Linked DNA regions of Homo sapiens: region 2 is linked to region 1. A link means that fine-mapping ties the variant in region 1 to the expression of a gene that starts in the linked region. Tissue or cell type: cerebellar hemisphere. Region 1 holds a variant in brackets; the other region holds the start of a gene. All regions are shown on one strand. Distances are from middle to middle.

Region 1 (8,264 bases):
GTATGTCTTGTATTGTTCTTAGATTGCATCTTGGGAGGTTGCTCCCTTTTGCTGCCTTTTGAATGTTATTTTCAATGCCACGGTAATGATATGGCCAAGGCAGTGATTAGTAATGACGTAGAGTTTAATGCTAGTACTGACATTAAAAAGCCTTACCTGGCTGGGCGCGGTGGCTCATGCCTGTAATCCCAGCACTTTGGGAGGCTGAGGTGGATGGATCACCTAAGGTCAGGAGTTTGAGACCAGCCTTACCAACACGGTGAAACCCCGTCTCTACTAAAAATACAAAATTAGCCAGGCGTGGTGGCGCATGCCTGTAATCCCAGATACTTGGGAGGCTGAGGCAGGAGAATTGCTTGAACCTGGGAGGCAGAGGTTGCAGTGCGCCGAGATCACGCCACTGCACTCCAGCCTGGGTGACAGAGCGAGACTCTGTCTCAAAAAATAAAAAAAAAAACAGCCTTACCTGGAAAAACTCAGCAGATGAAAGTGAACACGTGATCATTCACCTATCATCTCTCTGTTGTGACATGACTATTCTGGTGATGAATAGAATTGAAATCAGAACTCTGTTTCTCAGGGAGGATTAGCACACACTGAGTTTCTGAAAAACAAATGGGCAATAAGGACTATGTAAGAAGTCATCACGTCATTCTATTACATGGTATATAATTAAGCATTTTTTTTTTAATCTGGCAAAGTGACTGTATTTACCATTGCCACCTGGTGCTCTGTTCGTGCCGTGACTAAGCTATGTAAAATTTACCCTTTGAAAGCATTCTTTAGATTATTTTACTTATAAAACCAAGTGTATAGAAATTTTTTTTGACAAAAGAAGAATGGTTTTTGCATTAAAAAGAGAAAAACATTCAGGAAAACTAGTTTGCTAGATTGCAGTTTTAAATTTTTCTTTGATTGAAGATTAAGATGGCACACTTCTAAATTTGATATGTCTTTTTTAGAGTAAGGCAACTGGTATCTTTCAAATTCTTACGTGGGCACATTTTTTCCATTTGATGTATCTTCAGTTTTATACAGGGAAACAGTACCACCAGGTCTGTATCTAACCCTGGCATTGGAAGGAGTGATGGGAATGCTTGGCAAAGAGAAGGCACATTTAATGCTGAAGGGAGGAGTGAATAATGATACCCATGACAGCCAGGGCTAGTTTGCAAAGCCTGAAAGATATTCCAGCTCTTAGCATATGCCATCTCTGTGGGGAATGGACTTGGCTCTCTCTCTGGAAAGATGATCTGGGATCATTTCTGTTGTCATGGAAATTTATTATAATAGTTTACTGTTATTACTCATGTGTTTTGGCCATAACCCTATTCTAAATCTGGTGCCATTCTTGAATATACTTATATGATAGAATGCTTATCATTCATTTCAGCTTAAGAACATCTTCTGTGCTGTATTTCTCCTTCCATGTGCATTTCTTTCAGGACAGGGACTTTTGTATGCATCTTTATACCTTTAAGAGTAGAAATAAGAAAAAGATAATGTCTTCCACAGAAGCAATTTGATTGATTGATAGATTGAGAGAGTGTCTCCCTCTGTTGCCCAGGCTGGAGTACAGTGGCGCCATCATAGCTTACTGCAGCCTCCAACTCCTGGGCTTAAGCGATCTTCCCGCTCCAGCTTCCTGAGTAGCTAGACTACACACGAGTACCGCCATGCCTGGCTAATTTTAAGAAAATATATTTCTGTAGAGACGAGGTCTTCCTGTGTTGCTCAGGGTGGTCTTGATGTCCTGACCTCAGGAGATCCTCCCACCTTGGCCTCCCAAAGTGTTGGGATTACAGGTGTGAGCCATGGCAACCTGGGCTTCCTTAGGAGTAATTTTTTTTTTTTTTTTTGAGACATGGTCTGGCTCTGTTGTCCAGGCTGGAGCGCAGTGGCACCATCTTGGCTCACTGCAACCTCCACCTCCTGGGCTCAAGTGATCCTCCCACCTCAGCCTCCTGAATAGCTGGGACTACAGGCATGTGCCATCATGCCTGGCTAATTTTTTGTAGCAATGGGGTTTCACCATGTTTCCCAGGCTGTTCTCAAACTCCTGAGCTCAAGCAATCCACCCGCCTCAGCCTCCCAAAGTGCTGGGATTACAGGCATGAGCCACTGTGCCCACCCCGGATTAATTTTAAAATTAAAACTTTTAGTATTTATAAGCCAGAAGGGGAAAAATAAAACAAAATCATGGTCCTCAAGTTGCAACATAGGAAGAGTGATTGGGAAGGGGGTGTGAAGTGTTCGAAGTGTAAGGATCGATGAAACTAATCGGTAGGTCTACTCCATGGTATCGACATGCCTTTGTGATCACAGTGTGCCACATTTTCATCTTCTACAGTATAGAAATCATACATCCCCTCTCATCAAGAGCCTAGTCTCTTGATCTTTCTCCTTCTTTAAAAAATTAAATTATTAAAGGAACAGCTGTCATAGTTTAAAAAGTAAATTAGAACTATAGGACTTAAATGAAAAGGCAGTCTCTGCTCCACTTGATTTCTCCTTACCAGAGGTGGCCACTTTAAATGATATCAGCTATTTCTTTTAGCAGATAACATGCTCATGCCATTTTACTTGATATTATTTTCTCAATTTTAGACTTTATTTATTTTCTACCCAGAGGGTGAAGGTTTAGCTCTCTTCTGTCCTTTGCCAATCCCTGACACTATACCCTCCCAAAAACTTCCCTTTCCCCATCTTCCCAATGTAATTACATAACATCTGGGGTTGAATTAATCTTCATCATTTATATTTACTATTTAAATGTGCACAGTTGACCCATTATGATATATTATGTTTACATTTTCTCTTTTTCTACTTAGGTTTTTTCTTAGGATACTACCTGCCTTTTTGTGGTTTATTTAGTTTATAATTAGCTGACCAGTTCAGCCTCAATAGAGCCGTAGAACTCATTTTAGTAAATGGACCGCACTAGGTAATCTATCTAGTCCTTCTGCTCTCCCTCCCCACCCACCTCTCCCTCTTCTCCATGCTCTCTGCAATAAAAATTCTAATCTGAATGTTACTCTCTAGTGTAGCTTTACAGTCATCATTCTGGGATTTTCACTTTACTATCATTACGAGAATTCTCTTTGTCACTTGTTATTAGACCACATATCTTTTTTCTTTTTCATTTTCCTCCTGGTAGCTTTTTGAGAAAGGGCACATGAGAGGTAAATTTTTTCAGAACTTGTATGTCTGAAAATGTCTTTATCCTAGCCCCTGCCTACTTGTTTTAGCTGGATATAGGATTCTAGGATGGAATTTCTCCAAACATGGAAGTTACATCGATTATTTTCTAGCATCTATTGTTGCTATTGAGAATTCACTTGACATTTTGATTCCTGATCCTTTTAATGTGATTTTTTTTTCCCTCCCTGGAAGCTTTTAGATTCTCCTTTTTTCCACACAGTGTTCTTAGTTCATGATGCTGTGTTGAAGGTCATGGCCAGGCCTTTGCTAGGCTGATGGTGCAGTAAGAAATAAAATGAGAAGGGCTGTCGTCACTGCGCAGGAGCCTGGAGTTGCATTATAGGGTTGTAGGTGGACCGTGCAGTGTTGATGGGGCCCTTCTCCCAGCCTAATGTTGGAAAGTCAGTGTGCCAGTGCTTCTTCCCTTGGCCCTTCTCACGTGCAGGTTTCTTACTCTGTAGGCTGTGTTCACCTGCAAACTTCAGATGCTCATGTTATGAAGAACTAGGGAAGCAGTAGGAACCTACATCCATTCCATTGTGTCCTCAGCTTTAGACATATATCCTCTGCATGGATAAATAATTTTGCCAGGTAAAATTTTATCATGTTAGTTCTACACTATGTAATAGAATGACATGGTGGCTTCTTACGTAATCCTTGTTGCCCATTTATTCTTTGGAAACTCAGTGTGTGCTAATCCTTCCTGAGGAATAGAGTTCTAGTTTCAGTTCCATTCAACACCTGAATAGTCATGTCATGACAGATAGGTAGATGATAGACAGATGTTCCCTTGTTCATTTTAATCTGCTGAGTTTTTTCAGGCAAAGTTTTTACAATCAGTACTGGTACTAAACTCTAAGGCTGTTTATATTGGTGTGGGCAGGGTTAAGGGAAACAAACTTGATGTGGTGCAATCCCCCAGGGCTGGCAACAGAAACTGGTACTTTAGCAGTCCTGGGCATGAAGAGGTAAGGAGAGGGAGAAATTACCATAAACTGTTGAGATTGGCCTTGTGGGAGAAGTCTGCTAATCAGAGCTATGGCTTTGGTGAAGAGCCATAGTCAACAAATGACAGTCTGACAGGGAGGAAGACAGCAAAATACATGCCCAGCCTTCACCATCCCACCTTCCAGTCTGCCAGTGTCTGCCAATGGGGTTTAACCCACCTGGAAGCCAGACAGCAAGGGCATCCTTTGATGTCTTCCATAAAGGTCGTCCTCCTGGAGCGCAGAGCAGGGTGGAAGATGGTGAGGAGGTGAGTGGTGAATCACCAGCTTAGTTAGGTTTAAAGATGTTTTTGGAACCTAGGGTTATTATTTTTTGTTAAGAAGGAATGTGCAATTGGAAGGGCTAAGTGTGACGCTCATGGACAGATCCCGCCTTTCAGGGAGTTGATCATCTTTTACTCAGATATTAGAAGTTAGTTTGCAAGTAACTAACTTTTATGTTTTCTTTAGAATGTTAACGTCTACCAATCTTAGTGTGTGTTGCTAACCCTGCCCATATTCTCCCTTCTATTCACTGTAATTCCCTATGACTTGCTAATGAATACCGTATTTTTTTCTGCATATCTGTCAGCTTTTATAGCAGTCTTATGCAGCATCTCAGTGATTTCATATTTATTCTACATTCTTCTCATTTCTGTTCAAGATGAATATATACTCATTGCCTGGTACAGAGTGATTGTAATAATTTCTCCCTCTTGAGGGAAGGCTCTTAGTAGTTGCTTTTCTCTGCAGCCTCTTTTACTCAGAGCTGTTAACTTTGTTTTGATGAGGATGTCCTGCTTTTAATGATGGGTATTTTTGTTTTTAGGTAAGTGACAGTTTGCTCTTTGATAC[A/G]TCAGATGATGAAGAGCTGAGAGAACAGCTGGATATGCACTCAATCATCGTCTCCTGTGTTAATGATGAACCCCTCTTCACGGCAGACCAGGTATAGAGGAGATCCTCAGCAACGCAAGGAAAGGAGACTCTAGAGCTGAAAAACGGCTTCTTGTTATGACAGTAAATGATGGCTGTTGGTTTACTTATCTTTCCTATTTTTTTCTGGTTATACAGGCTTAATAGTTAACTCTTCCACAGAGAAAAATAAGTATTTGTGATCTGAAGCAGAAGGGATTATGTTAGTTGGGAAGGTTTCCAACAGAGGCCTTGTTGAAGATTATAGCAAGGTACCAAGGAAAGGTTGTTGCTTAACCCCAAACCAGAAAAATATTGTGAATTTCCTTGTTTCTTTAGATTTACCCAAACACGGACAAACTGTAAAGTATCTGTGTAGAAATTATTTAGTATCTTCAAAACCCTGGGTAAAAAGCATTAGCATGTATTAAAGTAACATATTGTGTGCCCCAGAAAGAAGTGAGCATTATTCCCGTGGAATGCGCTAATAAGGTCAACCCTGTATTCACTTAAAACCAGTCGAATCAGCTTTCTCATTTTCTGAATACTCTTCCCACCTCTGTTGTATTGTTGAAATGTGATGCCAGAACTTCTTCCTGAAATAAAATGTTCCATGGCTACTCGGACTGTGAGTTCTACCACACTCTATTTTTAGGCTGGAAAGATGAGATCAGTAAGGAGATACATTATGGCAAGCTTGGGAGGAGTACATTAAAAATTTACATTAAAATTGTGTTATTTGGATCCTCCTTAGTCATATTTGTGGTTGAATTGTTCTAGGCGTGGGAAGAATGTGGTGCTTAAAAAAGCAAGGTAATAGTAGGTTGGAAGGTTGTTTTGAGGTAGAGGGTAATCTAGGGATAGACATGACCTTGAGAATTCATTGTCCCCTCACTGACCTGCCTAATACCGTAAACTCTCCCTTTTTTTAAGAGTTAGAATAACAGATTCTGTAGGATCCTTGAGTGGCTCATTGTACCTTATTATATTTCCTGTTTTGGAGACTCTTCTTATAATTAACATAATCCCATCTCCTTCAGATTTGCCTTTGTTTTTCCTTGGTGGAAATCTTACCTGTTAAGCTTGTTAATTCATAAAGCATGGAAATATGCTCATGATGTCTTACTCCTTCATTTAATTGTGTTTAATTTTTTTTTTTAACTTTAGGTCCTTTTTTCTAACTATTGAGTAATTTTCCTGGGTTTCCTTTACATTTTCGCTGAGTTCTATATCCTTCTCAACTTTTAGAATCTGGAAAAGGGCAAGATACTGTTGTAAGATTTGAGCAGCACTGCACTAGACAGTAGATCATTGTTTAAAGTCAAATGTATTTCTGAAGTTTTTCTGCTTTTCACAGCATTTTTCTCTTTGGACTTCTACTTTTTGAGTAATTTAAAAAATCCCTTTTTTTCGTTGAATTAATATATAAAATTATTTTTCTGCTGTTGAAAGAATATTTTGCTGTCATAGAGGTAATTTCCCATTTATATATACTTTTTTTGTGCTATTGTATTTTATAAATTTTATGTCAGAATTTTTGATGAGATACCTTTAAATTGAGCACTTGTATGTCTATGGTAAATTTTCTGTTATTTGCTTTCTTCTAACGATTACTGTATGATCTAGCTCTGGTGTGTCTGAAGTAAATTATTATGTGTTTGTAGCACGATTACCTAGACTTTGCAAGACATGTTAGGGCCTTCTGAATCATGATGGACGTAGTAAATCCAATTCTATTTAGGTTTGTGTTTAGTATATTGTAATTTTTTCTTGATAAACCATGTTCACTCCTACAGTAAAAATTTTGATTATTTGGAGCATCCACACCTGAACACCATTGGTTAATGGAGAATTCAGTGCATTTCTGCTCTGGGTGCCTTAGGTGAGCACTGTGTTCCAGATAGATCATTTTCCTTTTGTATATTTGATTAACAGTGGTGTGTGTGTTTTCGAAGGTTATTGAAGAAATTGAAGAAATGATGCAGGAATCACCGGACCCAGAAGATGATGAAACCCCTACACAGTCAGATCGGCTTTCAATGCTTTCCCAGGAAATTCAAACTCTCAAGAGGTCTAGTACCGGCAGTTATGAAGAGAGTAAGGGAGCCTGCTGAAATCAATGATTTCTGTGCTTTTTGTCTGTATCAAATGTATAGTATGATCATCTCCAGAAAGCTTTGATTTCATCCTCCTTCTGTTTGTGTTTGTGTCCAAATTTACATTTTTGTTGTTGTTGTTGAGACGGGATTTCACTTTTTGGCCCAAGCTGGAATGAAGTGGCATGATTTCAGCTCACTGCAACCTGTGCCTCCCGGGTTCAAGCAATTCTGCCTCAGCCTCCCAAGTAGCTAGGATTACAGGTGCCCGCCACCACGCCTGGCTAATTTTTACATTTTTAGTAGAGACGGGGTTTCGTCATGTTGGCCAGGCTGGTCTCGAACTCCTGACCTCATGATCCGCCCGCCTTAGCCTCCCAAAGTGCTGCAGTTACAGGCGTGAGCCACCATTGCCTGGCCCCAAATTTCCTCTTACAAGGACAGCAATCATATTGGATTAGGGTCTATCCTAATGACCTTATTTTAATGTAATTACCTCTTTAAAGACCATATACTGTAACATTCTGAGGTACTTGGGGTTAGGACTTCAACACATGAATTTTGGGGAGGACACAATTGAGTCTATAAGAAACCCCATCATATTTGAAGTGTAGAATAGATATTCAGTAATTATTTGTCAAATGCAATTCCTGTTTGTACAAATAGTCTTGTGTGTTACTATGAAGAATTTTGGGAACCATGGATCTGTTTGACATATGTGAGAATAATGAACTCTAGAAACTCTACAGTTGATTTTCATGAAAAATGTCTGAATAAATATAACCAGCCTGTGAACAGCCTGAGGCTGGTTGGAAGGTGTGTATCTAATCATTGCCATATGACTGGTCCCTTCCTTGAATAGGCACTGATGGGGTCTGTATCTGCTCAACTCGTGTTGTCACCTAGTTTTATCTTTATGGCATGCCCAGTCCAAAGCTTAGTTACCTAAAGACCTTTGGGTTGTATGGCTTCAACATACAGATGGTCAGACAGACCAAATTCTTTCAGATGGTCTGATTTGGCCATGTTCCTGTAGGTATGGGCTAAACAGTGTTAACGTCCTGACTCC
Region 2 (8,000 bases), 230 kb after region 1:
CTGGTCATGCTCTCTCACCTTGCCTCACTCCTTATAGAAGCATAAAGCGCTATGACACATGGGAGAAGAAATGGCTCTCAACCCCTTAGCTCAAAACATAATTCTCACTGTCCAATCAAAATCTTCTTTCTAGAAAATCTCACTTCATTAATTTTTCTAAACTCTGCCTTCGATCCTCCAAAGATGTCTTCCATCCAGATTTCTTTCTCAGGGGTTCAGGATCCACACTTGTTTCTCTGGCTTCTAGGTGATTTTCCTGGAGGCAGGCAGCCTGGCCAAGAAAACAGGCCAGTTAGGATGCTGCAAAGAGCAACAGGAGGTCTTAGCAGACGAATGGAAAGAGGAAAAAGACCTGCACTCTCCTAAGTTCCAAAAAGCACTTTCTAGACTGACAGAAAGTAGGAAAAACTTTTAGGTATCAGGCTCCATGCTCATTTTTTCAAATGCACTTACCACCCCCAGCCCCCACCACAAAAGGAATAATTCAATTAGAATTTATTTAATAACAATCTAAACAATGCGGAAAAGAAATCCAAGTGCACATCTCACATGGTGCACAGGACACAACTCATCACATTATTTAATCATTCAGAAAATATTTTTTTTCCTTCAGCATTCTTTCTATGGATAGGATTGTTCTTCCGTTTGTTCAATGTACTTTTACTGAGAGCCAACTAGACCAGCATGCCTTAAAAACCTAAGGCTGTGAGCCACAAGCTGAAAGGGGCCCATTTCTGCCCATGATTTATCTAACTCATTTTGTGAACTGCAGTTAAAAACGTAATTTTTTTCCCCTACAAAGCCAGTATGAGAGTAAACACTGCTAAAAATTACTGCAAGTTGGCAAACAGAGAATATAATTTGTATTTAAATTATGTCATCGAAAGCAGGGAGATTAGTCATGATAATATTTCTATAACATGCAATATGTTTTTACAACGTAGCCAATTAAATAAGTTTTCAAGAGTTTTCATTAACAGATACAACCAGTAGGGGTCATTTTAGTGCAAAAATTGCAGCAAAAGAGACTTCAACATGAATAAAATATATTGATTCCTATTCATGTTAGTTATGATAACCATGCTTCACCACGTGAATTTCTGAATAAAAATGGAAACTGAGGGAAACACTGGCCATTCCGAAATTTCTTGTAAACTCACAGAAAAACAAGAGATAATCAATACCTTCTAGGTAACTGCTGACATCTGAAGGCTCCTCTAATTCTTTTTTTAAAAATGGCAGGCGGGGGGCGGTTGGGGTATCACTTATCCCATGCTTTCCATAAATCTTGTCGTTAAGTGAAAACACTGAAATTGTAAACACACGATTGAAAATATCTGTCTAAATCCAACCATTATATCATGCCAGGTAACACTGTCCTTACTTTGGTTTCACAGATTTAGAATGCAAGTTGACTGCTGTTTTCAGTATTTTTTTTTTTAAAGGAAGTGCCCTGGACACACAATATTGATAGTTGAAAACAGGCCTGTAAAATAAAAAGTGTTTCTAGAGAAACTAATTGAGATATAATCATGTCAACAAACCCTTCCAAGCATTTCAAAGCGAATACCAAGCACACAGGGTGTTGCCAGAAAAAAGGAAGCTATGAGGGATCACATCATTTCAGAGGAATGAAAGGCTCACGAAACTGCCAAAATAACTCTATACTGTGACATGGGATATTGCTGCCACAACACTCGATTACTGTAAATGTTCCCTGAGCACTTCCTTCACCAGAAACAGACTAAGAAGAAACAAAACAAGGGTTAGAATCTTCAGAACCTGCAAAAGTCCTTCTTGGAACACAGCAGTTTCCACTGCATTTAACTGTGTTTCATGTCGCCTGTTCTTTTCAGATTTACGAGAGGCCGGATTAAGTTATACACTTGAAGCGGCAGGGTTCAAAGATGCATCTTTTAGTCTAGGTCATTCAGAATTCCCAAAGTCAAAACACATACAATGGTATCAGAAGTTAATCTCATGGCCATTTTTCTTGAGGTAAGGCATAAAAACAAGTTATAAAAGGGGACAATACCAGGTGAGAGGCTTTTTTGTACTTCAGGCAAATGATCTCTTCTAACCCAATGTCTTACGTGTGCAGCAAAGCAAGAGCAAGTCCCTCCCCTCTGAGAAGAGTTCCCTTCACTCATCACTGCCCACTAGCTTCCAAACCAGAAAACCCTCCCCTATTTTCCTGAACTGTCCAAACCCCAAACTATTCAGGTATAAATAAGTACCTATGTGTGTGTCTGTGCGTATTTAGAGAGAATCACAGCACTGAAGCCTTTTAATAGGTCCATTGTTATCCTTAAGGCTGTCACCTCCTTTTTCAGTATCCCAGCATACTAAACAAACACACACAAAGATGCTTCGGAATAAACCGTTCCCTGGACGGTGCTGGCTGTGAGTAGTGAGGAAGGCACGCCGGGCAGAGGGCGCCTGTCCCTCCTCGCCGCCTCCCCAGAAACGAGGCTGCTGCGTGCGCTCTGCTCACTCGCCAGGATGCCCCCGGAACAGCATCATCAGCCCAACGTCAGCCAGAGCAGGGATCCCACTTTTAACTGATGCTTACCGAACCGTGCCCCCGTTAGCCACATCAAAATAACTCACTGCCTCGCTCTAGACCCCAAACCAGACCAGGCACCCTGAAGGCCGACGCAAGCGGGCAGGGATTAAAGCCAACACGCACTAACATTGGCTCCCCAACGAGAAAGACTCCACTAATCTAATCTGTTTCTCCCACCGTCAATCTCGACACCGCGGAGCACAATGCGTGCTGGAGAAGCCAGCAGAACAATCCCCGCTGTCAAACAAACAAAAAGGAGGAACCGGCAACACGACAGGAAACACGCGGGTATCTGATATTAAAAAGCAGCCACTAATAGCAACAACTTTTTACTCCCAGGTGCAACCCCCACCCCCCTTTCCTTTCAGGAGAGAAAGCCTTTGACCGTTTACAATGGGCAAATAAATGAGTAACCACCGTGTGTAACTTCCCCTGGGCTGACATATTCCGCGGCTGAAACTGATTTATCTGCGGAGGAGGAGGAAGGGGTGAAGGAAGAGCTCAAGGAAAAAATAATAAGAGTCACTCGGGGAGTGCGAGCTGGAGACACGTCTCCTCCGCCAACAGAAAAAGGACTTTCGCGGCCGGCGTGCGGCTCACGGTGCCACACTGCGCCAGTGCGGGGAGGGCGGTAGGGCCGGGCTCCCCGAGGGGCTCGCGCGCGGCAGAATCTGCAGTGCCCCCCGCCCGCGGCGCCCCCACCTCGGGGAGCAAGGCCGGGCCACCCAGTCCCAGCAGGAACGGCCACACGTGTGCGCGTCTGCGCGGGGACAGGGGCGATCCTCCACTCGCTCGCCCCCACCCACCATACCCAACCTCGCCCGCGACTGCCTAAGCGTCGGGGGGAACAAGGAGAGGGAACGCAGGGCCGCGGGGGCACTCTCCTGGGGGCGGCGGCCGCCCCTCTTCCCGCAGAGCCCTCTTTCCTCCAGAAAGTCTCGCCCAAACTTTGTTCGGCACAACCAGCGCCGAGGGGGCGGCGCAGGCCAGGTGGGAGGGGGCCCGCAGCGGGCGGCCGTACCTTCGCAAACGCCCGCTTCGTACTCGGTGAGGGAGTCGCCATTGAGCGGGGGGCGGATGACACAACGCAGCCCCCGGTCGCAGGTTCCGTAAATCCCGAAGGTGCCGCCGCAGCTCTCGTTCCTCTGGCTGGCGCACGTGTAGCAGCAGCCGCAGACGCCCTGCACGATGCTCCCCGGGCAGTTCCTGGGCTCCTCGCACTTGGACTCGTCACAGGGCAGGCAGACCAGCGCCCGGGTGCCGGAGCGCGCCAGCAGCAGCAGCAGCCCCAGCAGCGAGACCAGGAGGTGCCCGCAGCCGGCCAACCCCCTGTCCCCCGCCACCAAGTACATCCTCCTGCGCCGCCGCCGCCTCCTCCTCGCAGCCGGGCCGGGAGCGGGGCGGGCGCCCTCCCCTGCGCGGGGCACACGCGCCGCCGCCGCCGCACCAGCAGCCCGCGGTCCTCACCGCCCCTCTCGGGGCCCCCGGGGCGCGCCTCCCCTCGCGGGGCGAGGCCCCCGCCCCTTCTGCGGGCCGCGCCGACCCCGAGCCCACGAGCCTTGGCGCCGGCGGCAGCTTCCCCTCCTCCTCCTCCTCCTCCTCCCGGGAGGGAGGGGGAAAAAAGAAAAAAGTTTCCTCCCGGCAGCTCCGGTTCAACCCAAACTTCTGGCGCGGCGGCGGCGGTGGCTGCTGCGCTCGGCTCCAGCCCGGGCCGGCGGCGCCTCCTCCCTCTCCTCCTCCGAGTCGGCCGGCCCCGCAGCGGCGCAGCCTCCGGGCCGGTCCCCGCCTCCCGAGCTGCCGAGTGGGCGCGGTGGCGCAGCACAAGATCCGCGGCGTCCGCTCCGCGCGCCCCGCTCGCCTCACTCCTGCGCCGCTCCTCCGGGCGCTTGTTTATGGCTGGAGCCTCAGCCGCTCGGGCTGCGCCCTCCCCCATCCTACCTCCTCCCCCAGACCTTCCCCCCACCCCCACGCGCCGCGCGCCGCTCATTGGCTGCCCCCCCTCCCCGGCCCGGCCGGCCCCCTCCGCCTCCCCCTCCCCCTCTCGGGCGGCCGGGCCCTTCCTCCCTCCCTCACACGCCTCCACCTCTTCCCGATCTCCTCCTCCCCGAGCCCGGCGCACCGAGCCGGCCGTGCCACCGAGCTGCGGCTCTGGCCCCGGCGCCGCGGGTGCGCTGCGGATGGGCTTGGGGCGCACCCAGCGAGCAGCGAGAGTCGCGGTGTCCCGGGCGCTCGCTGGCACCGTGGCCGCAGCGGCCGGCCTGGGAGCCAGGAGGGCGAGGCGGCTGCACCTTCGGGGCCAGATTGGAGTTCGAAGAGTGGCGGGTACCCCAGAAGCTCGGGGCCGGGGCGATGGCTGCAGCCTCGGGAGGGTATCGCCGGATCGAACTCCGGGAAAGGGAAGCAAAGGCATGGAACCTCCGCACACTGGATGAGAATCCATCTTCCATTCGAGCTGGGAATAGACTTTGTGAAAGATATTATGTAATGGAGTCTCGGGAACCCTGAGACCTCTCCAGCGAAGCTGAAGTGAATTAATTAAGTGCTTTAAACGGTCTTGGTAAATATTCCGCGGGAGCTGGGGAGGACCGTTGGGATGGCTGTAGCTTGAGTTGAATTTTAACTGTCCTCATTCTGGGTTTTGTCGCTCTGCTTTCTGTGCCAAGGTGCTGTGTTACGGGAGAGAGTGACTGGAAAGTAACAAAGCTGAATCTTTCTCCCTGGAGTAAGGCCGAAGACTGGATTACTACACGCCTAGACGTGACACTACACCCATAGATCTCATGCATCATTAATGCCATATGACATTGCCATTTTCTTTCTCAGTTCACGGACAAAAGTGGTGGGTTTTCATTGTCTTCACTGATTGTCAATGCATTAATAAAGAAGATGTGTGGTACATAGTCTTTGTGATAAATCAGGTAAAGAAGCAACGGAAGTGATGCAAAATGCACGGTGTGGAGATGGTTTCTCTTCAGTGGTTGTCAGAAAAGGTTTTCGTAATGATGGCTCTGTCATTGATGGGATATGAAGTAGTAATCCGCTCCGTAGTGACCTACCATTCACAAGATGGGTACCAGGTGAATAACATTAATTAATTGACAAAAAGTGACTGTGGTCAATGGGGGAAAAAATCGATCCCGTGGCAGGTGTGACGTGGGAATGGCTGGCCCACCCTCTGATCCAAGATGGTCTGGCTGCAGGAAGGTGGCAGCCAAGTGGATTCTGAAAATCGTGACTAATGAACCGAAAGTTAATAGCTGGCAGTGCAAGGAAAGAGGAAACAAAGCTACCTTTGAAATGTTATGTTTGTGGAACAAATTCATACTTACGATAAATATTTTAGTTTAACCACTCTGTCTAATCCTGAACCCAAAAGCCAGAGTTACCAGTGGACTATTCCCCCATGATGGGCATCAGCAAACTAAACATTTCTCCTATCATATTTCTTTGTCCAAGGAGAGGAAGAGGCTCATTAATTATCATTGATTATTATAGGGCCATGAGGAAGATGTTCAACCGTGGAAAAGGGGAGAGAGCATTGCATTTTCTAGACGGGTTTAAAGAGTTGTTGCAATGAAATGATTCCTGTAGTTGGGTGGGAAGTCCGATTAGATGATCTCCAAAGGCCCTCATACCCTGTGGGTCCATAATAAGTGTTAAGTGGCAAAATCGTTTAAAATATGCTAGGTTTTCTATTAGAAAAACCGAAGAGACTGGGCGTGGTGGCTCATGCCTATAATCCCAGCACTTTGGGAGGCCAAGGTGGGCAGATCACTTGAGGTAAGGAATTCGAGACCAGCCTGGCCAACATGGTGAAACATGGTGAAACCCTGTCTCTATCAAAAATACAAAAATTAGCCGGGTGTGGTAGCGCATGCCTGTAATCCCAGCTACTCAGGAGGCTGAGGCAGGAGAATCACTTGAACCCAGGAGGTGAAGGTTGCAGTGAGCCGAGATTGCGTCATTGCACTCCAGCCTGGGCGACAGAGCAAGACTCTGTCTCAAAAACAAACAAACAAAAAAACTGAAGAAAAATAAAACACACATTGTTAAACATTGTTCTTTCTTGTCACCGAACAAGGCACCAGCACTTCAGTGTGGGATTTGCCAACAAACTGTCATCATTGCTCTGTGTTAAAAGGTCCCTCCCACTCTTGCAGAGGAGGTTATCTGTATTTCTGTTCAAATGCAAGTATAAAGACATTAAAATGTAGCAGATAACATTGTAGGACCTGCAGGAAAAGCCAAGGTCAGGTGATGAGAAAAAGGCAGAAGTGAGAAAGCTACTGTGGTTAGGAAAGAAGGAGGTAATAAGCATTGTCAAAGTTTAGCTTCTATTTATTTTTAAGGGGATATATTAAGGATTAAGGAAAGCTACAGATGAGCACAGGCAAAGGATAATTTGGAGATGACTATTCATTGTTCCTGGGACTTCAGAAGTAGAACCACCTGGAAGGTAGATGGACAGATACAACATGAGAAAGGTTGACTTCTCACAGGAATTCAAGTCAGGTTTAGAAAGGACTAGGGAGATTCTTTAAGATGAAGATGATTGTATCAGCTCAAAAAGAAAAAAAAAATCAAGTTACATTACACATGCCCTTTGGCATAAAATTAATAGTCATAGAAGCAATAGAGAAAATAGGATTCCTTGAAGCCAGTGACTAGTGGCGAATGAGAAACCTGCAAGGTCCTGGCAGCTTTTCTGAAACCAGTGTGTGAATCAGGAGCTCAGTTATGAAACAGCTCTTTCTTCTCTGGGATCCAGGAGGGATGATAATGAGGTAGTGAGAAGCTGAGGCAATGATACTGAGGCTCGAATACAAAAGTATTTTCTTATCTTCAAAGACCAGACTATGGTTACAGAAAGAGTTTGGGTGAGCCCAACATGATGACAATCAGGTGTCACGGGTGAAAGTGGACTAGGAAGAATTACCCTGAAATTGAATGGACCCTGAAAGTCATGAACGAATGTTAAGAATTAGAGCCACACATGAAAGGCCTCCCTTTCTGAGAAGCCTTCTTGAGCTTCTTTATCTGTTCTACAGCATTTGTAAGTACCTCTGCTTGTAGCATTTATCATGTTACATTATAGTTATTTAAATAACTCTGAACCCAATTAGCTTGTCAGCTTATTGGAGAGGGCAGGATTTATAAAAATGCATGCATGAATGAGTTGAAAAAGGGAGAGTGAAGAATTACAGTCAAAATGATATTTGAATATTATTGTCTGCAGCCCTTCTCTCTTGGTTTTAGTAAATACCTCAAAATCAGTACTTGAAAGGGATGGTATGGGCAGGAGGGAGTCATCGAAGTTTGGGGTGGGGGTGGTGGGGGGGTGGGGGAGGGGTTGGGGAACAGGTCTGCAACGAACCAGGAATTACGAAGTATTTCTGATGGAGGTCTAGAAGAAGAGATCGTCTGCCCTCTATTG

Direction of the effects. Alleles are on the strand shown, and positions count from the first base shown. SD is a standard deviation of normalised expression in the study named.
With allele A in place of G in region 1, the expression in cerebellar hemisphere of the gene that starts at base 4,433 in region 2 is lower (moderate effect, 0.53 SD a copy in GTEx).

What was found. PIP is the estimated chance that this variant, and not a neighbour inherited with it, causes the effect.
Region 2: it holds the start of CRIM1, and the variant in region 1 is fine-mapped to the expression of CRIM1 in cerebellar hemisphere (GTEx, PIP above 0.99).

The regions. Positions count from the first base shown.
Region 1 is chr2:36,580,222-36,588,485 of GRCh38, reverse strand. It overlaps FEZ2 (fasciculation and elongation protein zeta 2), which reads left to right. Exons shown (of 8, transcript NM_005102.3): 3 at 5,017-5,133; 4 at 7,055-7,196. Among named protein-coding and RNA genes, the nearest start is that of FEZ2, 14 kb to the left of the region's middle. The variant A/G (reference allele first, on the strand shown) is at 5,043.
Region 2 is chr2:36,352,211-36,360,210 of GRCh38, reverse strand. It overlaps CRIM1 (cysteine rich transmembrane BMP regulator 1), which reads right to left and starts at 4,433. Exons shown (of 17, transcript NM_016441.3): 1 at 3,588-4,433. The coding sequence starts at 3,918. It overlaps CRIM1-DT (CRIM1 divergent transcript), which reads left to right and starts at 4,641. Exons shown (of 2, transcript NR_037631.1): 1 at 4,641-5,123; 2 at 5,230-5,462.